Linked DNA regions of Homo sapiens: all the other regions are linked to region 3. The links come from fine-mapping of genetic effects on plasma protein levels. A gene starts in region 3. Each other region holds a variant in brackets. All regions are shown on one strand. Distances are from middle to middle.

Region 1 (5,108 bases), 86 kb after region 3:
TTTGGCATTACCGGCCAAATCTGGCCTACAGATGTGTTTGTTTGGCTTATACAATGTTTACATTTGTCTGAATTAATTACCGATGTTTAAAAGTGGGAGACTTCACATAAGAATGAAGGTTTATGGCTTCTGTTGAATTTATGAAAGTTCTGGCAATTCTGGTTCCATGTGCTTCCTTAAAAATCATTGAAATTTAGCTAAGTAAGGACTGTACCCTTTTAGACTGGACCAAGTCTCTGGCTTGATCATTCCCACTTATTTTAGTTGCCAGCCTCTCCCTGTAGATTGTAGTTTGTTTTGTGATCTTGCTGTAGGTGGTGAAAGTGATTTTTAAAATATGGTTTATTTTTCTTGGAGGAAAATGAAATGATAACATTAACCTTTCACTTACTTTTCCTGGTGTAGACTTAAATATACTGTTGTCAGCAAAAGTCTATTTCCCCATTTTGACACCGGAGCTGAAATGCTCTTTAGAAATGTGAGTCTCAGAAAAGATTCTCAAAAAGGGGACACCGTCATGTTCTCTGCTTGCCTAATAGAGGGCTTTCTGATTTGGGATTGAGCAAGGATAAACAACCAGCCTTAGAAGCATGTCCCTAAAACAGCACAATTCCTTGACGTCAGATCAGGTTTTCAAGCCATTAGGTCCTTCGTTCAGTGAGTATTTAAGATCTTAACACATGAATCATTCATAGAGTGAAGGAAAGAGCCTGCGGAATGTCTTCCTCTGTGGCAGGCATATGGATGAGATGTGGTATTGGAGGGTGTCCAAAACTCAGATTTCCAGAGAGCTTGGCAAGAATATGGAGAGAGGGATTAAGAAGTAGGAGGTTGTTTTAAAGCTTAAAGCATCTGTGCCAGTGGGACAAAAACACCACTACCTTTACGTTTTCCGCCCCTAAACTAACGAAGTTCTGTGGTTGTTTATTCTAGAAAAATAGGCGTGCCTTCCTTTAGGGAAAAATCAAAAGGCAAAATTCTACATTTACAAAAAAAGAGAGATTGGGAATTTATGTCATAGAGTACTGTCCTTTATAGAAAGATCTTCTGCAGTTTTTTTTTCCCCCAGAAAATAGCCTTCCCTAGGACATTTGTGTTATTGTTGTAGTTATAAAGAATTATAAGCAGATGAGAAAACTAGGGTTTGAGAAGTTGCCAAGTGTTCGTAGCAATCTCTGTGAGACCCGGGTTGAACTGGTCCTGGTGTCCTGGGTTTATCTCATCCTAGAGAACACACTCAACACTGTGCCCTGTGCCTCTCAAACTGCCAGTGCACCTTGTTTTCACAAAATAGTGTCACCCAAACCACAGACCTGTAGCTAAGACTATGCATCCTGGTTCACGTGAAACTAAGTATCCTTTCTATATATTAAAGATCTTTTATTTAGAAGTAAAGGAAGAAGGTACTTGAGAATTATTAATAACAACATTTTGGCACCTTTGTTCACTGAATTGTGGGGAGGTACCCAAAATGAATAGCAGATGTGGGAAGGACAGTAACAATAAGGCTTCTGTAAATGGAAAAATCCACAATATCTTTCAAGCATTTTCCAGAAGACTGAACTTTTGTACACTCTTTGTTGTTTTAAAATGTGCTCATATTGCTTGGGTGTTTTATTCATAATGAGACAGGTCACATTCATGCCAATGTACATGTGTGTTTTGAAATCCAGTAAAATAAAGGAAAAAAAAAAAAGTAAGGTATGGTAAAATTTCACATAAAATAGGCTTTTGGCTTATATTTACCGCTGTAGTATCTTCTTTAAAGATCTTATGTGAAGGGAAAAACACCTTAATAATATGTAGTTCCTTTTAGTCATATAACCTATTTGATTGCTTCAGAAGTTTGAGGCGGCATGGGTTTATGTCGACCCTTAATAAAACCATGGTTTAGTAGACAAAATATACCTGGGTTGTTTATTTTTCAATTAAAAACAATATTCTTAATACTTATTTGAAAAATACTTGTTTGGTGAAGAGGT[A/T]GGTTAATGACTAATAATTCTTTTAGATATGGCCACAAAATGGTGAGCACTCATGTCTGTGGAGTAGGAGGTGAAGAAAGAACCAAACACATGAGGTGATGATGAATAATTCCTCATGAGCAACCAGCAGTAATCATTTCCACAGCCATATTTAAAGTGCTGCATTGTGTTTGTCCAAGATCCAACCATGGACAGTAGACAATTTGGTATGTTTAAATTTTGCTTTTTGACTCATGGAAATAAACAGTCAGCACCTCAATTCAAGAACAGAGGCTCTCCAGCAAAACCAACAGCACACCAGGAAGAGGTTTACCTGTCTATTTATTCATTGGGCTGAAAGTAAAAAGACTCTTACAATAAAGAAATCAAGTAAAGTTTTTCAGCAAATGATAAATATGGAATATTTAAAGGTTTCAATCAAGGCAAACATTGCAAATAGATGGCATTTGAGTTTGTAATATATTATTAAATAAAACCAGTTAACCTATTGATCAGCACAGATAACAGGATTTATCCCTTTGTTAGAATGCTATTACACATGTAAAATTGCATTAACTGTGCACTTAGGCATGTTTTCTTTATGTGGCATGAATGGTCCCAGTTTATCCAGGTGTCTTGTATGCATGCCCTTTCGTTGTACCCTTCACTGCCTCGGTGATTGCCCATGTGACTTGCTTGGACCAATGGTTGGTAGCAAACTTGAGACAAGTAGAGTCTTGAAATAGCACTTGTAGGTTTCTATTTTTTTTCTCCTCAATTTTGCCATGAGAACATGCTTAAGCTCACCTGCTGAATGATGAGAGACACATGGTCTAGTCACTTCTGTGACTATAGCCATCAGATATGCGAGTGAGCCCACCTGAGACCAGCCCAGCAGAATTCAACTTGATTTGCTGACTTGAAGGCTTGTAAGCTTAGTAAAGGCTATTTAAGACATTAAATTTTGCGGTACTTTTATCATGCAGCATTTATATGCAATAGAGAGGAATACTTTTACTGAGGCAAAGAAGAAAGACATTTAGAATAAAGATATCAAGAAAAATAGATGTAAATAACTATGTTATTGCAATTGATACATAAGAAAAAAATTTTAAGGTTTCAATCATGGAAAACATAGTAATTAGATGGCATCTGAATTCTAGTTATTGTTAAAAGAAAATGTGTAATTAGTTGACCAGTATAGATCTGTCAAATATTTCTTTCTTTAATTAGATAAGTTGTTACACATGTAAAATTGCCTGACTTGGGTACATATGCATGTTTTCTCTGATTGCCTTATAAATGTGGCATGAATGTGCTTATATGGTTAATGCTGTTCTTTTTATGTGTCTTTCTTCATTTTATGCTAGAGTTCTCAGCAATTGGATTGATGTCAAAATTGGAACATTTTCAAAATACTTGGGATAAAATCAAGGAGAAAGTGAGGTGAAAAAATCTGTAGAGGTAAAACAAGAAAAAAGGTTTTACATCAGAATATGTCTATCAGTGAACTCTTGTGATATGGATCTACCCAGATGGGCAAGTATCAGTCCTATTGAAATAGCAGCCTTCTTGAATAATTTCCACTCAGCATAGTACAAATTAATGAAGCCTTTTTTGAGAGCAATATGATATAAAATGAGTCATATCTTAGTCTTCTTGCAAATGTAAATTGTCAACTATGAGGCCCTTTGGAAATAGGTGGATGGCATGGAGTTTTATTTATATTGGTTTATATAAGTATACTTAAACTGAAGACATTTTGGAACTTTCTGATTCAGGGGTTGTATATTCTCCTTCTGCTGCTACAGCTGACCTGGTTGCAGAGACCTGGGTAAGCCATCCATTTTTCAATTTGGAAAAGATTTTGTGTATTACCCAGTTCAGCTCCACAGTAGAACAAGAGTCCCTTAAAAATAGACCTGTGGTCTTTGCTTGGCCATTTTCAGTTACTGACAACTCAAACTTCATGAGGCAGCCTAGTCATCCTTGTTTGTTGGAAGATTCTGTTGTTTATTCATAATCTGATCCTCCTCATTGCTGACCATAGAACAACATAAAGTGTGTCTGTTCTTCAACGTGACTGCACTGTCAATGGTCAAGATGACTCTTACACCCACAGCCCCAAGCCCTTTTAGTTTGCATCATGCAGTGAGATTTCAACACTCAGGATCATCACAGTCCCTCTTGCTGTGCACACTCTGTTTTAAAATATCCTTAAAGTTAATGAAAGCAAATAATTTAGGTATGTGTGATTACTGCAGAACTCTGGTACCACTTCTTCTCTTAATCCAGTCTCTCTATTTCCACTAATCCATCACTACTCCACAAATTGATTTAGCCATTTTTATCAGTTAGAATACAATAAGAAAATTGAAACTACCTTAGATATTTCCAACAGAGAAAATTCAATAGAAGGAATCAGTTACATAAGCAATAGACAAGTTGAGGAAATGGGGAAGCAACCTAGAGAATAGCCACACCCCAGAATGCTTCTGCCTCTGGAGAGCTGGAGGAACAAAAGTGGGTGGTGTAACAGAGCCTGAGATCTGAGTGGACCCAGTGGAAGGTAAACCACAGTGGGTCTTCCGGTAGAAGGTGAGATCATTAGGGGAGGGACTATCCAGCAGGACCCAGACGCATGGACCTGGAGCCGAGGAGGAAAAGTACCCACCACTGGGGATACCACCTGTAGGAGTAAGGAAAAAGAAGAGGGAAGAGAGGAACCTATAAAGGAAGGTAAAAAAGGGGAGCTAAAAAGCATAAAAACAACTAAGAGGCTGGGTATGTGGCTTACACCTGTGATCTCAGCACTTTGGGAGGCTAAGGTGGGAGGATCGCTTGAGTCCAGGAGTTTAATACCAGCATGGACAATGAAGTGAGACCCTGTCTCTACAAAAAATAAAAAAAATATCCAGGCCCAGTGGCATGCACCTGTAGTCCCAGCTACCCTGAAGGCTGAAGTGGGAAGACTGCTTGAGCTCAGGAGTTTAAGGCAGTGGTGAGCTGTGATCCTGTGATCATGACAATGCACTCCAGCCTGGGTGGCAGAGCGAGACCCCATATGTAAAAAAACAAAATAAAATAAAAATAACAAAATTAAAAACTAAGACAATGTGGTATTAGGGGAAAAAAGAATTTATCTTT
Region 2 (5,108 bases), 68 kb after region 3:
AATGAGAGGGATGCCTTCATGCCTACTTGCTCGGGACTACTTGGCACACATTTCTGAGGTAAAAACAATTCATGCGACTTTGCCAAGTCTGCCATGCTCATTGTCCTGTCAAAATTTAGAAGGGAATATCTATCATGCTGTACAATACGTTTGATGGATATCATGATATATTTTTATGGGAAAGTGTACTGCACTCCTCCTCATAATCGTAAGAGGCATTTTGCTATGAGGGTGAGAGAGTGATTCTGAGGACTGTACCACCTAAACCTACATATTTAAGCTTTATGAGACTCCAGTGGGACTCTGAGCTAGAAAGCATCTGACCTAGTTGAATTTTTAATGCTTTTCGTAAAATGAAAGTCTGCATCATGATTCTACTTAACTGTGTTCTTTCTTCCTCAAATTACTTAAAGTGACCCATTTCGTAGTTGGCATAACTGAAGGATGCGTACTATGTAGGAAGGTATTGAATTACCTTCCTTGTCCATTTTAAAACGTGGAGGAGAATGCATTTCCAGGTAATGCTTCTTACCCATTGCTAACTTAGGTAGATTAACCAATTATCAGTCATTTAGTTCACAAGTATTTTTAACCTGACCAAAGGTAATAGTGTCAAAGGAAGAGGACAACAAACACCTAAGAAATCTCTCCTCTTGCCAAGAATTGGGATAAATGATAAGAAGCTGTCCTTGTGTTTTGATGCCACAGACAGGATTAAAATCATGCTGAACAAGGCAGGGTAATATGTTTAATCAATCCATTACTTGGGCACATCTGAGTATGGTATGAGGATTCAGTGTGAAGGAAAGAAAAAGCTGACCTGGAAGACTGGGTCTGAGTGTGGGATGCGGGGAGGACAGCTGGATATTCCCACAGGCAGGAAAATGCGATACTGATGGCTCATCACCTGACTGGGGCGTCTTTCAAGTTCTATGCAAAATGTAGCCACTGGTAGCTTTTAAATAATGAATTGTGGCCATTGACATCAATTCCAATGGCAATTTCTTCTAACATCTGACTAAGTTTGTCAGAGGATAATTATTTACCATTCTGATGAGTCCAGGCGGTCTGCTAATTAATTCTTCAATGGGATGCTTGCCATCCTTGTTGTTCCTTAATACTGCATGCTGAGGGTTGTGCATAAACAGGATTGGCACAGGGCCTACCATAATGATTATACAGGTTGAAAGCCTGGTGCCAAGTGTTGTTTAATTCAGTTTCCCTGAGGTCAAGGAGGGAGGACTTCTGCTGTGCCATGTATTTACAATTTTTGGAAAAAGAGTAGGTGAAAATGTCTACATTAGACAGTTTTAAATATTCCTATCTCAGTGAATATTGAAAACATAATTAGGACTAGGTGGAAATGTATTACAAATCTGAAAATTAGTGTTAAGTACATTAGACTGAGAAATTGGTAACATATTAATATTTTTAATCAGTAAATATAATCACAAGACAATTTATCTGTGATTCTTCCGAGGCAAGGACATAGGGATCAAGCAAATGAAGTGGAAGGTCATAACACCTGACTAATAATGAAAATAAATGAGAAATCAGGTTAACATTTTAGACAAGTCTTTCTTAAAAGATGGGACTGAGACAGATTAGACTTGCCTACTAGCACAGGACTAATTAAAATATGTTTAATTGATAAAGATTGTTGATTAGTTATGTTTTCTTGTAATCTCTGCTAGAAATCTCAGATCTGAAATTATACTATTCAGTTTCTATACACTGCTTTTTTTAAAAAAATAATTCCAACTTATAATTTTATGTTAAACTACATCGGGGGATGCCAGTTATGAGCAATATTTCACTTAGGACAGACACCCAATTAAGTTGACCTTGTCATTAAGAGAATCATGTGTTTCATTGCTGAATTTAAATCTTTGATAATCATTTTAATGGTACTTCAAAATGACCAGAAATCCCTAGCAATAGGGATTACAAATTCTCACATTTCCCCAGGCAAATATAGGACAAGACAGGCCACCTAGTCATGTTCCAAAAGGCTTTTTCCCTTCTGTATCAGATAAGTATTTATGGCAGACAAGCTACCTCTAGGCTTTATCGATGATGATAAACTGAGAAGGAATGACAGCTGAAGGAGAGAGGAAAAACACGAAGGCTAGCAGGAAACCTCTACTGGGGCATCAGTGTGCATCAGCAGTTCCACAAAGCATCCGCGGGAATGTAGGGGTGGGGAGGTCATGAGGAGTGTGTGAACTGACTCACTTAGCAACAATATAGTTTTAAAAATCCCAGGAATTTGAAGAAAGTGAAAGAACCCTTAAATCCCACATTGGATATTTTCTGAAAATTGATCTATAGTTTTATTCCAGATAGTTCATGGGCATTATTATCCTCCCATCTTTGGAATATCGTAATTTTTGAACATTACTAAGTTAAAACAAATATGGTCATGTAGTACTAGGACTCAAGCAGTGCCTGTCTTCCAGGGAACGCCAAGCCTTTTGCAGATGCTTTCTTCCTCTGCTATGCTCTCCCAAGACTAGGAAGACTCTAAAAACAGTTGTTGGGTTGTTTCCTAATTATCTTAGATGCCTACAAGAAGATTACTTTCTGCAACTATGATTTGTCTGAACTAACCTCATTTCCCATCCACTAAGGCAGAAGCTGAAACTTTCATTCTATTTCAACTCAAGAATAATTTAATATGTTATTTGTAGTTTCATCATTTTTTTTTTTTAAGTATGGTTCTGGTTTATTTTCTGAACAGACCTGAA[A/G]AGGAGGCAAGGTACAAGGCCTTTCAGTTCTCGGTTTTCATAGTAGGTGTATGGCAAATGGAGTTCTCACTGATGTGCTAATGTGGGCTTTTTGTGCTTCCCTCTTCCATAAGAACTACAGACACTGTGACCTATCTACTCTTTTTGATACGTATAATTTCTTTATGCTTGCTTTCCCAAACCAAATCAAAATCCTGTTTACACTGATGACTGGAAACTTGTATGTCTTAATCATACACTTCTTGAGAGAGACAGGCCAACAAGGCGCTTGGGAGGCATGCACACACGATTGCTATTTCTTCTTTCTCAACTAGACACTTTCAGGTGTTCCATACCCTTCTTAAAGTAACATCCTCCATCCATATTAATTAGCAAAATTGTCTCTGTTGACCACCCTCCAACATGCCCTATTAAAATTCCATTTCATAGGTGTCAATAGTGAAGGCAACACCGTTATCCTTACTCAATGTGCTTTTCTACATTTATATTTTTACTTGTGTGTTGTTGATTGAATCCTTAAGCGTCACACTACAGCACCAGTGGTCTCCAAACTGATTTTAATAATAAACTCCATAGCCAGTAAATCTTTTTGGCATGCGTTTGCCCTACAAACTGTGAATATTTGTTTACTAGATTATATGCATACAGGACTACACTACATATTTCTTTTATAATTATATAGTATATTAACAATTTAGTAATAAGACAGTAGTAGTAGTAACAATAAAGTGTATCAAAACTAGTATGCTTATGTAGACTACAGCAAACTAGTATCCAATATATTATAAAATACTATAATTTATTTACTTTGCATCACATACACAAAGGATGGGAAACAAGGAGTATGATATCATAAAGCCAATGTAAATATAAGTACAAGGCTAATTATTTTCCTTCCAAACCTAATTGACTGTCTTGTACAACACCCTGGGGTTCGTGCATCACCTTTGCCAAATGCTGTCATATTCTAGCAGAGAACATGAACGGAATTGTTATTACAACAAAAATATAATTTAAAATTATTTTATATCCATCTTTAGAACACATATTATGTAACTCACTGAATTATTCTTTGGCTTCACTTTGCAGTTCTTAATATAATAATAAAAGTAATTTGCATCTCCTGAAGGGGTATTTGCATGGTAGTGAACAGAATATCTTGAGTAGTTATGAAAAACTGGCCTGATATTTAAAATTTTCTCTGAATACACTAAAAAGTAAATAATAAACAAGTGGTTCTGTGACTTTATGGGGAAAAAAAGGAGATATAAAGACTAACACATCTTTTCAAGGTGCATGGAGAGAGACAAAGACCAAAGCAGGAACAGAAAATAGGTCCCCCGGCCTGTGTTCTGAAACAGTCACCTTGGTGGTACCTTGATACAGTAGTATTTGTAATTTCTACAATGAAAGAATACACTTTCATTCTTGTGCATGTATATAGTGATTTTTTAATAGTATGGTAAGGTCACTGGTAAAGTCACTAGTTGTAGCCTTCTATATAACTCTCATATGCCCTTAACTGTTCTCTTTTGGATAATCTTTCATTAAAAAATAGATAGTTAATAATGAGAATACATATTTGTTTTTTAGTTGGAGTTTTCAGATTTCTTAATTGGCACAGAATTTTAATCAGTCTGGTAAGTTAATGTTGACTGATAGTCTCTTTTTTAATATTGCCTATATCTTGAGCAGGTATACATTGCCTTCTAAATATCATTGCAGAAGGCTCTTTATCTTGTTAATTCATGTTCCTAAAAAACAGTTCTTTGGTTTTTACTATCTTATTTTACAAATATAGTTGATTCTCTTGAGAATTTGTTGAAAACTATGGACTTTCTCCCTGTGAAAATGCACATATTTACAAAATGACACTAGGTTAAGGCCTTTATTCTAGTATGATTATAGTATTAAACAACTTTCACACCCCTCAGTTCATAGGAAAATTATTTTTAATAAAGTTTTTTTATAAAATAAAACTTATTATTTTGCTGTAAACTTTATATGCAGAATTGTAGATGTGCTGCAGAGATAACAGTTTAAAACAGCAAAATAAGGAAACAGTGAGGAGGGGAGTTAAATAAGGGGCAGCCTTTCCCTATCATGACTGACTATTTTTTTTTTTTTTGAGATGGAGTCTCACTATTGTCACCCAGGCTGGAGTGTAGTGGCGCAATCTCGGCTCCCTGCAACCTCTGCTTCCCAGGTTCAAGCAATTCTCCTGCCTCAGCCTCCCAAGTAGCTGGGATTACAGGCGCCCGTCACCACACCCAGCTAATTTTTATATTTGTTTCAGTAGAGACGGGGTTTCACCATGTTGACCAGGCTGGTCTTGAACTCCTGACCTCAGGTGATCCACCT
Region 3 (5,108 bases):
GTGCATGGCTGATAGCTGTTTGCTGATGGCTAAGAGATGGAAAACGACCTGGTTGTAGCCGACATCACAATGAAGAGACTCTTCTTTCTAATGTGGATAAAGCTTCTCCTGTATCTGCCTTCCTCCTAGTAACACTGACTAAAATGTAATGCTGACTACCTAGATCACAAAGAAGAATTTTCTACAGAAGCCAAACAAGGCCATTGTTTACATGCCACATGTGCTAAGTCTCAATCTTGACATTCCCCAATCCAACTTCCTGGCAAATATTGTTTGACTTAGGGAACTGAGTTAACAGATATTGAACATACGGCTGTTGAGTACCTTCACTTATCAGTGGGCCAAGAAAAAAAATGCCAGGAACCCAATTATATTTGAATCAGATTAAATATCTATGTTTTGATCCACATCTGGTGATATAGTTATAGGAATTTAACTTTTTGAAGGACTGGTTACTGAAGGCCCATTGGGCAGCTTTAGAACTGCATTACCTTGAGAAAGTGTTGTAACTTCTGAGCGCCCTCGCCAGCTTGTTAATTTGAACCATAATGACTGCCTCCTCCTTTGCAGGGCTCATATGGAGTTCATCTATGTGTATGCAGGCTCTTTGTAAATAGTGAATGTCTACAAATATAAGTGATTATTATTATGCTTTTTATACCTCCTGTAGGTGTTTGCTGGTCATGGACTGATTGACTTTTTCCAACATTATGATTCCTATGTAACTGATCTCCTGAAATATCTACCATCTCCACCTATAAAGGAGATTAAATTTTAGGGAGTAAAGTCACTTCTCTTGCTATCCTGCTTATCATTACTTATGATTAGGCAGAATTCTGCTGGTTAAGATATGATTCCAGGGAGGCCTAGAAGAGTCCTTCTGTGTGCTTCTTTCCCAAATATATTCCTGACAAACTTGCTAATAATGAAAAGTTCCAAAATTGGGAATTCACTTCATTGTCACTATTCTAATGGAATTACACTTTAAGCTCTACCATTTATATACACGTTATTATGAACTGAGTTCATCTAATCATTTTAATAGGTTTTCAACAGAGGGAAGAAAATTGAACATGAGCTAATGGTAGGGACCAAAGTCTCAGAGAACAAGAACTCTGCAACTGCTAATAAGAGAATTTTTGTCTCTGTAGCTGGTGAAATATTTGAATGATATCCAATGATTAATGTTTCTTTAATTCTCTAGGTGACCAAAAATCACACAGAATTATCTAGCAATAAATCCTCTTTACATAACAGCCAAAGCACTTGGGGTTGAGGAAAGAGAAGAGAAATAGGTCTTACCCAGCAGGTCTGGTGTCTTCAATGGCTCTATCCACTGGGATCAAATCGCTAAGGTAGACATTGAAGTTTCCTTCTTTCCATCTTCTTTCTGCCTCCTTCTCCTTTCCATGGGGGACAACTACAGGACGCCCAAACTGCCCTGGAGCTTTGGGGTCCCTTGGAGAAAGTGTCACATCAATTCTTAACACCTGGTGCGTTCCACTGTCTTCAGGTAAAAGGGCTTTTATATGACTCTGGTTGTATTCTGTAGAGGGGGCTTTGGCAGTTATGTTGATTTTTGCTGGCTCTAGCCCTCCAGTTAAAGCATGGTTAGTTTGGGACAGTGGCACTCTATGTGGAGCAAGTGAAGAGGAAGACATCTCACTTCTATTCCTGGAAATGTGTTTACTTTGGCTTTTACCCAATACTTTAGGAAATATTGTTTTGGTTTTAGAATTAGAGACCTCTTTGGGGTCTGCCTTTTGCTCTTCCTCTTTGGTTATAATCACAAGATGGCTTTCAGAGAAATTGAGTTTCTTCCCATGAGCCCCTCTAGCTCCATCATCCTTTGACAAACTTCCCAAAGGTGTCTCATTAATAGATTGCTTCCTTAAGCGATTTGAATTGACAGTGAACTTAGGAAAAGGAAGACTCGTATTGGCTTTGTGTTTATTTGCATTGACTTCTTTGCTCTGAGTCTTAGTTTTGTTTAAGGCCATGGCTTCCCCAGACTTCGGCACTGCTGTGCTGGCAGGGTGTGCCCTCTCGTTTGCTACTGCCTGTGATCGCTGCTTTGGTCTATCAGTACTAAGACTGATGGTCACATTCAAGTCCCTTTCAGCTGCTAGTTTTGATGTGTCACTGCTGGGACTATGACTCTTCCGGGGCTCCTGTTTTAAACTGACACGTCCCATGTGTACTGATATTTTGACTACCTGAGTTCCTTTTGCTGCTATGAATGAGGTCTTTGGAGCCCCCTGAGCTGTCGTTTGCTTTGGTGTCCCCTGGTGAGAGGAGGCTTCAGGTTTGGTGCCTCTCCCGTCTGTCTTCTGCTTGTTAGGAGTCACAGGGAGGGTCTGCAGATGTGCAGGATGCCACAACGGCACAACCTTGCCCCTTCCCAGGGCATTCTGCATTTTTCTTTCCCTCTGGGTTTGGTCCAAGTCCACCTCAACCTTGAGCACACTCTCCTCAGTTTTTCTAACATTCTCTTTGCCCCATGCCCCTTTCCCATGTCCCCTTAGGGGAGGTTTCATCTCTTTTATGCTGCTGTAAAAAATTTTTCCTTGGTCTGGCTGAACTCTGAATCCTATCCGCTCCCTCCTCACAATGTCTTCCTTGATGACCCGAGTGTTGATCTCACTGAATGAGAGGCGGAGAGCTGCCATGTCAAAGAGGAGCCAGATGACAGAAGCTACAAAGATAAATGCCAAGACTCGCCCACTTCCTCGGAAAAACTTTCGGATCCTGTTCATGGTACAAAGCTTTCCCTAGCAGCCTGCCCTCCCTTAGCCTGCTTACCTTGAGTGGAGAGGAAGCTGAAGTAGCAGCAGCAGCAGCAGCAGCAGCAGAGTTGCCAGAAAGTGACCCCCTCCCCTGAACACAGCAGGAAGCAGCAGTCCAAGGGGAAAGCTCAGTTCCTACCGCTTGTCAGTCTCTGCCTGCGTGGCATTTCATAGCAGAGCATCTGTGCCTGCTTGGCTGGCCCTGGCTAAGTTCTGATAAACACTGGCCTTAGGTCACTCCAGGAGCAGTTGATTCCAGCCACCGAACAGTTCAACATATCACTTGTCTTGTCTCCGGGAGCCCATGTCCACCTTCCTACAAGCCCAAGAAAAGGTGGGGGCCAGATTGAGACTGCCGTTTCTCTCCTCCCCGTTCTCCGTCTGCACGCTGTAACTCAACACCACTTCTCATAAGGAAAACATTTCATGCCATTACCCAGAAAACTTCATTCAGCTCTCACCTTCTGTGTTATGTGAGAGCATGTGTGTTTAAACGGCAATTAAAGAGGAAAAAAAGCTATCTAACTTGGAGGGCATGTGTTCCTGGTTTGTGACCCCACCTACCCTACTCCTGCTCATTAACCCTGTTGTAGCCAGGTGCCAATGCTCTGCCTGAGGAATTTATCACTGAAGTTAACATTTCAGCTTTAAGACATAACAGCTTAAAGAAGGGGCCTGGTATATCCTCACTTCCAGAGATGTATATGTTTAATTATTTAGATCATTCATTCAAGGGGTTTCAATGTATTTCTTTGTAAGCCAACTATTTTTTTTTCACTAATCCATCTGTTTTTATTATTACATTTGATTACAAATAAACTTAATTTGTCATACTGCTATAAAAGTTTCTAAACACTTTGTTATGGTCTGAATGTTTATGTCCACCCAAAATTCATATGTTGAAACCTAATCATAAATGTGATAGTATTAGGAGGTAGGGCTTTTGAAGGTGATTTCATTATAAGGATAGAGCCCTCATGAATGGGATCAGCACCCTTAAAAAAGAGGCCCTATTGCCTTGCCATTCCACAAAGTGAAGACATAATGAGAAGGTGCCATCTATGAACCAGGAAATGGGCCTTCACCAGTCAACGAATCTGCTGGTGCCTTGATTTCTGACTTCTCAGTCTCTAGAACTGTGAGAAATAAGTTTCTGTTGTTTATGAGTCACTTAGTCTATGTTATTCTTCTATAGTAGCCTGAACAGATTAAGATACACTTACTCTCAGTTTCAGTACTTATCTCGTCTTAAACCAGCAAGCAACAGTTTCAGGACCACACCAGGACTTGGACCAGATTTTGAGTGATGCTGGTTGACTGGTAGGGTAGCAGTTCCGCCACAGGCTTTTCATTAGAACCACTTGAAACAAGATCCCCAAAACTCTGGTCAATTGATGAGAGAGGAGGTGGAGATGACATTTGGGCTGATATTGTATTAAATATATATATATATATATATATATATATATATATATATATATATTTTTTTTTTTTTTTTTTTTTTTACAAAGCTTCCCAGGTCTTTCAAATGTGCAGCTAAAGTTGAGAAACACTGGTCTAGAAAAAAAGTCTCAATTTTTTGTTTGTTTGTTTTTGGTTTTTGAACATTGCCTATGAGACATTTAATTTTAGGTGTCTACTTGACTGGGCTAAGGAACACCCAGAGAACCAGTAAAGCATTATTTTTAGGTATATCTGTGAGGGTGTTTCCAGAAGAGATTGGCATTTGACTCAGTGCACTGAGTGGGGAGGAGATGCCCTCACCCAATGTGGGCAGGCACCACTAATTGGTTGAGGGCCCAGATAGAAAAAAAGGCAGAGGAAAGGTGGATTCTGTCTCTGTTAGTGAGCTGGGACATCTTTCTTCTTCTGCCTTTGGACTAGAACTTTAGATTCTCTGGCTTTGGCCTCTGGGGCTTGTACCAGTCTGCCCCCACAACCTCCACATCCCTCACTAGGTTCTCAGGCTTTTGACCTCAGACTGAGAGTGATGTTATTGGCTTCCCTGGTTCTCAGGCCTTTGGACTCAGAATGTGCCATGTTACTGGCTTTCCTGGTTCTCCAGCTTGCAGGTGGCCTGGACTGAGGTTTCTCAGTCTCCATAACCACATGAGCCAATTCCTGTAATAAACTGCAACTCACTTATCTACCTCTATGAATCCTATTGGTTCTGTTTCTCTGAAAAATCCTGGCCAATACAGTCTACAACTTGTGTGACATTCCTTCCCTGTCTAAAGTACAGTCTAATAAAATCTATGCATTCCCATAACAACTAAATCAGAATACACATTTTGACATTGCCAGTTGTAAAGATTGTCCATA
Region 4 (5,108 bases), 810 kb after region 3:
GAACATGAATCTGGGAGTAAGGAAATCAGAAGACTGGATTCAGGGCAGTCAGGAGACTGGACGCAACTCCTGAGAGTCCATACTAAGACAACCACAGTCATTACAGAGGGGACAGCACGAAGTCCAAATCCATTTTGGAGGGAGAATTGCTAAGATGACTGCTCCCTGGGAGCAGCAGTCCTTAGTCCTTCAAACAGAAGACCCCTCCCTCTCCCCCAGGGTTACACCACCATCATGGCTGAGAAGAGGCCCTAAGAGCACCTCATGCTATCAGCCACTGAAGGGCAGCTGGTCCCCAAGGAGGCCTTTATACTCCAACTGGCCACTACGTCTTCAGGAGATGACCTAGGCTACAGACACACTAAGAAGGCTTTTGCTCACCCCTGGCCACTAAGCAACAGGAGCTGCCACATGGTACCTACCCAATTTCCCCCAAGACATCACCAGGACTAACCCTAGCATGCTCCACAGCCCTCTTTTCCTCAGTCATCACCAGAAGACCAATCTTCCCCATCTCTCACCTTCCCAGGCCTCCCTCCCTCCCACTCTGCCCTCTGGTACTTAAACTCTATCCCCAGCAAATTCCATTAAATTCTCTTCTCTGAGTGTTCCTTTCACCAAACTAAACCTTGAAAACATAAAGAAAGTAAGATTTAACCTGAATTTCAGATGCTGAACACTAATAACACTATTTTCCCATATCATATAAAGAGAAGCTTGGTTATATTATCACTTTTTTTTTTTCATAGAGATAGGGTCTCACTATGTTGCCCTGGCTGGTATAGAACTCCTGGCCTCAAGTAATCCTCCCATTTGGCCTACCAAAGCACTGAGATTACAGGCCTGAGACACCACACATGGCCCTATATTCTCATACTTAGGTCTAGTTTCAGCCAGTATAAACAAGGATGGCTATGGCAGTTGCTAAAGTATCAAAATACCTCTCAACCAGTTGACAACTAGCTATGATCAAGAGATTAAAGAGTTAACATCTAGCTTCACAAAAGGCCCCCAGAACCCTGCTCCTGATGGAACACCGACATCAGCAGGTTACCATTTCACATGAGTTGTCAAACACTTTGAGTAACGACTCTGTTCATAACCCCAAGATCCCCTAACCTAGAGGTGGATTAAGTGTCTCTCCAGCTCACCTTCCAATTTCTCTTCTATCCTCTTTCAAAAGTCTTACCTGTCTGAAGTTTATGCCATTAGACTTTACCACCCATTATCCCTTCTCGCTGTCATCTACCCAACTACTGCTATTTCCCCTTATTTGCTGATGACCTTCATACCTATTTCCCTTTCCAGACTCATCTGTCTTCATCATTGCAGTTTTCTTTTTTGTTTTGTTTTTTGTTTTTGAGACAGAGTCTCACTCTGTCACCCAGGCTGCAGTGAAGTGGCGTGATCTCAGCTCACTGCAACCTCCACCTCCCGGGTTCAAGCGATTCTCCTGCCTCAGCCTCCCAAGTAGCTGGGATCACAGGCATGTGCCACCATGCCCAGCTAATTTTTGTATCTTTAGTAGAGCCATGGTTTTGCCATGTTAGCCAGGCTGGTCTCAAACTCCTGACCTCAGGTGATCCACCCGCCTCAGCCTCCCGAAGTGCTGGGATTACAGGCCCGGCCATCATTGCTGTTTTCTACAACTACATGAAGGCTCCAATTCCTCAACCACCTCACCTCTGATGACCTTTGTTTGACCCTACCTCATTATCATAACCTCTGATTTGGGCATCCCCACTATTTATATCAACTCCGCAGACTCCAGCCTCAAGCACCCTACACTGTAAACACCACCTTCTCTTTCTTCAGTTTATCTACTGTAGTCTGGAATTTCCATTCCACCATCTTGGCATTATCTGGCCCTTCAGTCCATTGACCCTACTATTTGCTTCACTATCAGTCACTTCTCCTGCTGCCTAGCTGAGAATTAAATTAGGTCCATCACTGTAATTTCTCCCTTCCAAGCACCCTTAACTCCCTTGCTCCTCTCTTCATGCTTCATTTTTACTTGGCAAACCCCCAAACCAGTTAAACCCAACTATCTGCCTGTTTCACATCTCCACCCAAACAGCTGAAGAAACTGCCTGG[G/A]AAAAAAAACATGCAACCACAACTGGCCTCAATTTAAATTCATAGCTGCAAATCATTAATGTGCAATCCACACTGACCCACAATCCTATTACATTTCCCCAGGATGTTTCAAAATAGCCATTTGAAATCTCTTTTCCCAAACCTGTTTCACCCCTCCACACCCCAATATCATCACACTTCACTGGGAAAGTAAAGTAGATGCAACTAGGTAAAAATTTCATCTTCCCACCACCCAAATGATGACTTATCCACCTCTGTACTCATTCTCTCTGCAGTCCTTCCTTTTACTAATAAAATGTGCCTGTTTCAAGTAAAGACCAATCATTCTATTTGTACACTAGATCCCCTTCCTTCCTGGCTCTTCAGAAATTTTATTTGTACAATTACCCACCACTCTCTCCTACCTTCATCAGCTCCTCTTCTCTACTTAATCATTTTGTCAGCATAGAAATTCACTGTATTATCCTCTAGTTCTAACAAACCCTCCCTTGACCAATATCCTCTTCCAAGAACTTTTCCACGTCTCTGCTTTCCTTCATAATGAAACTTCTTGAAAGAGTTCTCCCTCTCCCCTCTCCCCTCTCCCCACGGTCTCCCTCTCCCTCTCTTTCCATGGTCTCCCTCTGATGCCGAGCCGAAGCTGGACTGTACTGCTGCCATCTCGGCTCACTGCAACCTCCCTGCCTGATTCTCCTGCCTCAGCCTGCGATTGCAGGTGCGCGCCGCCGCGCCTGACTGGTTTTTGTATTTTTTTGGTGGAGACGGGGTTTTGCTGTGTTGGCCGGGCTGGTCTCCAGCTCCTAACCGCGAGTGATCCGCCAGCCTCGGCCTCCAGAGGTGCCGGGATTGCAGACGGAGTCTGGTTCACTCAGTGCTCAATGGTGCCCAGGCTGGAGTGAGGTGGCGTGATCTCGGCTCGCTACAACCTCCACCTCCCAGCCGCCTGCCTTGGCCTCCCAAAGTGCCAGGAGTGCAGCCTCTGCCCGGCCGCCACCCAGTCTGGGAAGTGAGGAGCGTCTCTGCCTGGCCACCCATCGTCTGGGACGTGAGGAGCCCCTCTGCCTGGCTGCCCAGTCTGGAAAGTGAGGAGCGTCTCTGCCCGGCCGCCATCCCATCTAGGAAGAGAGAAGCATCTCTGCCCGGCCGCCCATCGTCTGAGATGTGGGGAGCGCCTCTGCCCCGCCGCCCCGTCTGGGATGTGAGGAGCGCCTCTGCCCGGCCGCGACCCCGTCTGGGAGGTGAGGAGCGTCTCTGCCCGGCCGCCCCGTCTGAGAAGTGAGGAGACCCTCCGCCCATCTGAGAAGTGAGGAGCCCCTCCGCCTGGCAGCCACCCCGTCTGGGAAGTGAGGAGTGTCTCCGCCCGGCAGCCACCCTGTCTGGGAGGGAGGTGGGGGGGTCAGCCCCCCGCCCGGCCAGCCGCCCCGTCCGGGAGGGAGGTGGGGGGGTCAGCCCCCCGCCCTGCCAGCTGCCCCGTCCGGGAGGTGAGGGGCGCCTCTGCCCAGCCGCCCCTACTGGGAAGTGAGGAGCCCCTCTGCCGGGCCAGCCGCCCTGTCCGGGAAGGAGGTGGGGGGGTCAGACCCCCGCCCGGCCAGCCGCCCCGTCTGGGAGGGAGGTGGGGGGGTCAGCCCCCCCGCTCGGCCAGCCGCCCCTTCCGGGAGGGAGGTGGGGGGGTCAGCCCCCCGCCCGGCCAGCCGCCCCGTCCGGGAGGGAGGTGGGGGGGTCAGCCCCCCGCCCTGCCAGCTGCCCCGTCCGGGAGGTGAGGGGCGCCTCTGCCCAGCCGCCCCTACTGGGAAGTGAGGAGCACCCCCGCCCGGCCAGCCGCCCTGTCCGGAAAGGAGGTGGGGGGGTCAGCCCCCCGCCCTGCCAGCTGCCCCGTCCGGGAGGTGAGGGGCGCCTCTGCCCGGCCACCCCTACTGGGAGGTGAGGAGCCCCTCTGCCCGGCCACCACCCCGTCTGGGAGGTGTGCCCAGCAGCTCATTGAGAACGGGCCATGATGACAATGGCGGTTTTGTGGAATAGAACGGGGGGAAAGGTGGGGAAAAGATTGAGAAATCGGATGGTTGCCGTGTCTGTGTAGAAAGAAGTAGACATGGGAGACTTTTCATTTTGTTCTGTACTAAGAAAAATTCTTCTGCCTTGGGATCCTGTTGATCTGTGACCTTACCCCCAACCCTGTGCTCTCTGAAACATGTGCTGTGTCCACTCAGGGTTAAATGGATTAAGGGCGGTGCAAGATGTGCTTTGTTAAACAGATGCTTGAAGGCAGCATGCTCGTTAAGAGTCATCACCACTCCCTAATCTCAAGTACCCAGGGACACAAACACTGCGGAAGGCCGCAGGGTCCTCTGCCTAGGAAAACCAGAGACCTTTGTTCACTTGTTTATCTGCTGACCTTCCCTCCACTATTGTCCTGTGACCCTGCCAAATCCCCCTCTGCGAGAAACACCCAAGAATGAGCAATAAAAAAAAAAAAAAAAAGAGTTGTCTATAAGAACTGTCTCCACTTCCACAATTTAATCCAATAAACTTTGTCCCAGCCTCTTCTTAAACTATATGTCAAATTGTCAAAATCACAAATGACCTCATTTCACCAAATGTAATCTCTATAATTAACATAGTAGAACCGTCTCTTTTTTAATATCTTTTGAATTCTTAGCCTCAGAGACACCACGCTCTTCTGCTTTCCATCCCATCCCACTGGCAACTCCTCCTTCTCTTCTATATAATAGTTGCTCAATGGCCTGCTTCTCTCTATATACATTCTCTGTAGGTAACTCCATCCAGTATCAAATATAACCTATATGCAAATAATTCCTAAGTCTGTATCCTCAGCCAAACCCCTCTCAGAATCTCCAAACCCCATTCACCCAGTTGTCTGACATCTCCAAAGGAATATCTAATAATCACTTCAAACTTAGCCAAAGCAGAACACTTTATATCTTCCATCAAGTCTGCCTCTCTCCCAGCTCTCCCCTTCTCAGTAAGTGGACCAGCTCTCAAATAGAAAATGCAAG
Region 5 (5,108 bases), 100 kb after region 3:
GTTGACTTTATAGTTTTTGGTATTTTCTAGGTTAGAGTACTAATTTGCGCACCTTCTGGACTCAGTATTTAGGAGTGAGTTTTAAACAGTATTGTTGGAGTACTTTATTTGAATTTTGTTTATAATTTTACAATTTTAAAAAATTGTGTTTGGAAGTATATGCTGAACAATTTCTGCTTTGGAGAATTTATTTCCAATTTCTTCATGTCCTTGAGAATTGCCACTTTTTAAAGGAGTCCATGTGCATTTTCTCTCTGGAAAATGTGAATTTTAATATACCTTGAATTCTCCAGGTCCTTATTCATTTGTGTTGAATTGATTTGACATGGCTTGGTGTAATGCATTGAGGTTTCATACTATGATTATGATTTTGTTAAAAATTATTTATATGAGTTTTTCTCCTTTGTGTTGTTCTTTGTTACTTGGCACATACATTTGATAATGAATATAATTTCTTTTAGATTGCTTCTTTTATAAAGACAATATAATCCTCTTTGCATTGTTCATAGTTTTTATTTTGAATTTTACCTTGGCTGATGTGAATATTGCCACTTCTGCTGTCTTTTTGTTTGCATTTTACAGATATGTCTTTGCCTATCCTTTATTTATAACCTTTCCAAGTCATCTTGTTTTAAGTTTGTCTCTTGTAAACAGCATATTGTTGGATGTTGTTTTCTACTCCAATCTAAGAGTCTTTGCCTTTTAATTGGGGAGTTCAACACATTTACATACATTGTCATAACTGATATGTTTGGTCCTGCTTCTGTCATCTTGTTTTATGGATTCTATTTTCTGTGCTTCCTTGCCATTTTCTATGTTTCCTCTCTTGATATTTGGACCATATTTTGTTTGCTTTTATCTTTTGAAGGGATTTAAAAGAGAGAGCTTTAAAAGAGAGAGTTTTAAATTCTACCAATTATATCTTTAAGTTTATCTTGTATACATTTAAACCAATATTTCTCTAATTAGGATATTTAAGAGCAAAATAGTATCTTTGGTCTCGTTTTGACATACCATGCTTTTATTTTTCCTCTTTCCCTGTGCCAACTCTTAGTTCATAACGTGTAGTCTTCTCTTGTCTTCTTTTTCAGTAACAATTTTCAATAGGAAGTTGAAAATGGGTCTATGAAATACTTCTGGCATATCATCAACCCTTTCATTTTTCTTGATAAGCATCTTCTCACTTTGTAACACTGGAGGAAATTAAGAAAGGTATTGAGATCAAAGCTATGTCTACTCAAGTTAAAAACAAATTTGGTGAAATGTGTCACTAAAGTCCAGCTATGCTATCCTTATTTCAGTTCTCAGGCACGCTAATCGTTTTTTAATCACTATGTCTTTGACCAAGGCTTGATATTTTTCTTTCAGTCTCCCTTAAATATCACATCCTCAGAAACACCTTCCTCAACTAACTGAACAAGAGTGAATCTCAATACCCCATTCTTTTTTTTCTTAGCTTTCTATTTTCCTTCATAACATCTATCACAATGTTAATTATATGTTAACTCATTTATTTGCTTGTTTAATGTGTATGCACTTGATCAGATGATGAGCTCCAAAAGTACAAAGACCATGTCTGTTTAATTTACCACAGTGTATCCTAGGCCTACCACAGTGAGTGCTTACTATATAACTGATAAATAAATGAATGAATTGATGACAAAGTGTGGCAGTTTAAAACTGCTATACTATTCTATATTTTAAAAAAAGTCTCTGCTTAAGCCAAATAGCACCAACTCTTGCTCTCATCTAGTACAGTACTTTAAGCACCCTGTATTAAGCAATCCTTACCCTCAAGTATTTTTTTTGAAATCAGATAGTTCACAAACACATTTTAGCACTGGGCTCAACAACTGTAATGCTATATATACACCCATTAATTCCTACCACGAATATGCTATTTATTCATGGCTGCTGTGGATCTGCCATCTCAGAGATATCCTGAGGGTACCATCACATTTGTTGGACACTAAGGTCTCTTTCATGGCTCTGCTTGTTAGTGGTGGCAGAGATTCGAGTTTCCCTGAATTACCAGCAGCGTGTCTGTATGGGTCCATAGCAACTTCAGTCCTTGCCTCCTGAGGAGAAAGAATTGGACTGAGGGGCATAAAGCAGAAAAAGAGACCAAGGCAAGTTTCAGAGCAGGAGTAGAAGTTTATTTAAAAGGCTTTAGAACAGGAAAGAAAGAAAAATTTGCTAGGAAGAGACCCA[A/G]GCGGGCGCCTGAAGGTCCAAGAGAGAAAAGAGAGCAAAAACAAAAGAAGACAGCAAAAAACGGAGCCTTTAACCTTGATCCTAGGACTTTATAGGCTTTGCTCTTTCCCATGATTGTTGTTTTAGGGTGGGCTTTCTACATGTGCAGTGTCCTCCTTACCCTTGGGAACTGAGCATGACCAGTGTGTTTAGGGAGTTATATGCATGTCCATCTGAGGCTTTTCTTCCCTTTTCCGGTGTAGTGTGCCCCTAGAAGATCATACTTCGCTATTTTTGTCTGTTAACACACATGCCCAAAAAGTTGCTTCTCCCTGGGGCCTGCATTCAGTTAACATTTTTAATGTTAACCGGTGTGGACCATCAAGAGATTGTCTCTCCTTGGCTGCCGAATTATTATTTTTGGAGAGGCAATGTGATAATTGCCAAACCATCATTTGACATTCCTAGTGGGTGCGGGGAGAGCTCTCCCTTGCCCTGCTCGTTATCTACCTATCTGTAACATGCTGGTTGTTGATGTTAAAATACTGGAGCCCATTTTGTAGAATTCTACTATGTTTTTCTCTTTCTTTTCTCCTTCCTTCCCACCCCCCTTCTCTCTTTCTGTCTTTCTTTCTTTCTGTCTTTCTGATGGAGTCTCGCTCTGTTGCCCAGACTGGAGTGCAATGGTGCGATCTTGGCTCACTGCAACCTCTGCCTCCTGGGATCAAGTGATTCTCTTGCCTCAGCCTCCTGAGTAGCTGGGATTACAGGCACATGCCACCATGCCTGACTAATTTTGTATCTTTAGTAGAGATGGGGTTTTGCCATGTTGGCCAGGCTGGTCTCGAACTCCTGGCCTTAAGCAATCTGCCTGCCTCAGCCTCCCAAAGTGCTGTGATTATAGGCATGGGCCACCGTGCCTGGCCTCTACTATGTTTTTCAATGCAGCGAGAAGAATGTGTATATTTTCTAGTCTGTGATAAGCTTGTCATGGACCAGGCAGCAATGTTATGGTTGCCCTAGGTGCCTCAGGTCCTTTGTGAAAATAGTTCGTTGTCTTTACGTGTAAGAACAGCTCAGGTGCCATTCAATGGGGTTGAGTGTGGAGTAGAGACCATTCTGACCTTTCCACTTATCTCTATCTGTGGACTAAATACAGCAAAACATCCTCTCCTTTAGTTACAGGAATGTCAACTACAATCTGTCTTCCTCCCCTATTTATCAATTTTGCTCAGATATGAGAGTTGGGCTTAGGATAAGATCTTTATTATATACTTAAGAGACAATAATTGATGCTATACTTTATTATAGTTAGACATTTACGTAAGTTATCCTAGATTTCCCCTGAAAAGATTGTTTTATTCTCCCCTGAGAAGCAACTTCATTCTAAGGGTTAGCTAAAAGGAAATAGAAATTTTATGGTTTACGACAATGAATAAGATTCTAATAAAGACAGTTGACTGATAAGCAAAAAACTGAAATCACCAAATCTTTCCATCTAGGCCAGTGTAAAACTCAGTCTTTGGCTTCTGATGAGTCTACCATGATACTGACAACCTACCAGCTGAAGAGAAGTCTCTACATGGACTGTGCAAAAGAGATTCAGAGGCGTCTACTGAATTTCAACCATAAATTGTCTAGTATAAAGGAAGATAAGTGTCCCTGCTGAAGAAGAATGGAAACATAATGGAATCAATTCGGTGTGTCTGTGGAAAGAACTTATTTCTCCATTCCCCCAGGATCCAGGCAAGTGGCAATTCTCTTATCTATGCTAAATAGTCGAAGGCATCCTCACCACTTACTCAGAATAATCCTTTTTTAATAGCAGAGAAGTCTCATCCAGAAAAGTGTTGTAAGAAAATATATTGTGGGAGCCAGGATTCTCTTCGGGGCATAGAGAATTTTGTAACAGTGAAGGGAATTTTATCATCTTTCTCTTGAAAACAATTCCTTTACTGTCTCTTGGGCATATTGATGACCACATAATAGTTATAAAGTTCCCTATTTCCTTTCCAAAAGGGAAAATGGGATAATCAGTAGAAGATAGGGGATGACAAAAAGACACATAGGTGGCCTCCTTTGATATGATGGGCCGGTTAAAGGGTAAATTGTTGTGGGGTATTAAACACCACCATCCATGATGAGGAGAATTAACAAGGGAATTCCCATGCAGTAAGATAATGAAGACCTGGGAGTGTAGAGAGCATTTGGTCAAACTTCTTTCATTATGCAGATGAAGGAACAGGGTCCCAGAAAAGAAAACTGTAAGTCACATAATTAATTACTAGCGGAATCAACATCAGAATTAAGGTTTCATCACCTCTTGCATAATCCTCCTGAAACTAGGTACAAATTGAAATCATTTACAAAATATGCATCTCTCTGAGTAATTATGACACTGTGTTTTAATTGTGTACTGTTGAGTTTATCTTCTTAAAGAAACTGTTGATTTCTGTAGGGAGGGGCTTATAAACATCTTTGTATTTCTTGGATATAGCACAGTGTCTGATACATATGTAATATTCAATGCTAATTATATATGGGAAAGAATGAATAAGTAAATGGAGTTCTTTGCAATCAAGATGATCATTTTTCTTTCTTTTTTCTAAGTTTTGAAATTTTCTGACCTGTAGTTTTATTCCTTTTGAAATGAAAAACAACTCTAAAGAGTAATAACAAATGTAGCCAGGTCTGTGTTGTACATAGATAGGTTTATGTGATGTTTCTTTGTGTCACTGACTCTCAATTATCTCCTCATATATTTGAGACTTATTCATTTTAGAGAAGAAAAGGGAGGCCTCTTTGATTTATAGGTAAGCTTGCTGCTTTATTCTTTTGGTATCCTCAGTCAATTATTTCATCTCATTTTGAATGTAATGAAGATTCATTTAACAACCTATAAGGGCCTAATATGAGAG

Alleles and levels. Positions count from the first base shown, and alleles are read on the strand shown. Strength reflects both the effect of a copy and how common the allele is.
For the plasma level of the protein whose gene starts at base 3,134 in region 3, allele T in region 1 goes with a lower level than allele A (moderate association).
In carriers of allele G in region 2, the plasma level of the protein whose gene starts at base 3,134 in region 3 tends to be lower than with A alone (strong association).
For the plasma level of the protein whose gene starts at base 3,134 in region 3, allele A in region 4 goes with a lower level than allele G (moderate association).
For the plasma level of the protein whose gene starts at base 3,134 in region 3, G is the low allele of the variant in region 5 and A is the other (moderate association).

What was found. PIP is the posterior inclusion probability: the model's chance that the variant is causal. Protein levels are from antibody-based Olink assays in UK Biobank. Linkage for the fine-mapping came from a reference panel and not from the study's own genotypes, which makes the PIPs less certain.
Region 1: its variant is fine-mapped to the plasma level of the GALNT5 protein (UK Biobank, PIP above 0.99).
Region 2: its variant is fine-mapped to the plasma level of the GALNT5 protein (UK Biobank, PIP above 0.99).
Region 4: its variant is fine-mapped to the plasma level of the GALNT5 protein (UK Biobank, PIP above 0.99).
Region 5: its variant is fine-mapped to the plasma level of the GALNT5 protein (UK Biobank, PIP above 0.99).

What each region holds. Positions count from the first base shown.
Region 1 is chr2:157,169,448-157,174,555 of GRCh38, reverse strand. No RefSeq gene overlaps it. Among named protein-coding and RNA genes, the nearest start is that of GALNT5, 86 kb to the left of the region's middle. The variant A/T (reference allele first, on the strand shown) is at 1,983.
Region 2 is chr2:157,187,384-157,192,491 of GRCh38, reverse strand. No RefSeq gene overlaps it. Among named protein-coding and RNA genes, the nearest start is that of GALNT5, 68 kb to the left of the region's middle. The variant A/G (reference allele first, on the strand shown) is at 2,748.
Region 3 is chr2:157,255,731-157,260,838 of GRCh38, reverse strand. It overlaps GALNT5 (polypeptide N-acetylgalactosaminyltransferase 5), which reads right to left and starts at 3,134. Exons shown (of 10, transcript NM_014568.3): 1 at 1,303-3,134. The coding sequence starts at 2,756.
Region 4 is chr2:156,450,130-156,455,237 of GRCh38, reverse strand. The region is part of intron 1 of GPD2 (glycerol-3-phosphate dehydrogenase 2); the gene reads right to left. Among named protein-coding and RNA genes, the nearest start is that of GPD2, 16 kb to the right of the region's middle. The variant G/A (reference allele first, on the strand shown) is at 2,095.
Region 5 is chr2:157,152,899-157,158,006 of GRCh38, reverse strand. No RefSeq gene overlaps it. Among named protein-coding and RNA genes, the nearest start is that of GALNT5, 100 kb to the left of the region's middle. The variant A/G (reference allele first, on the strand shown) is at 2,212.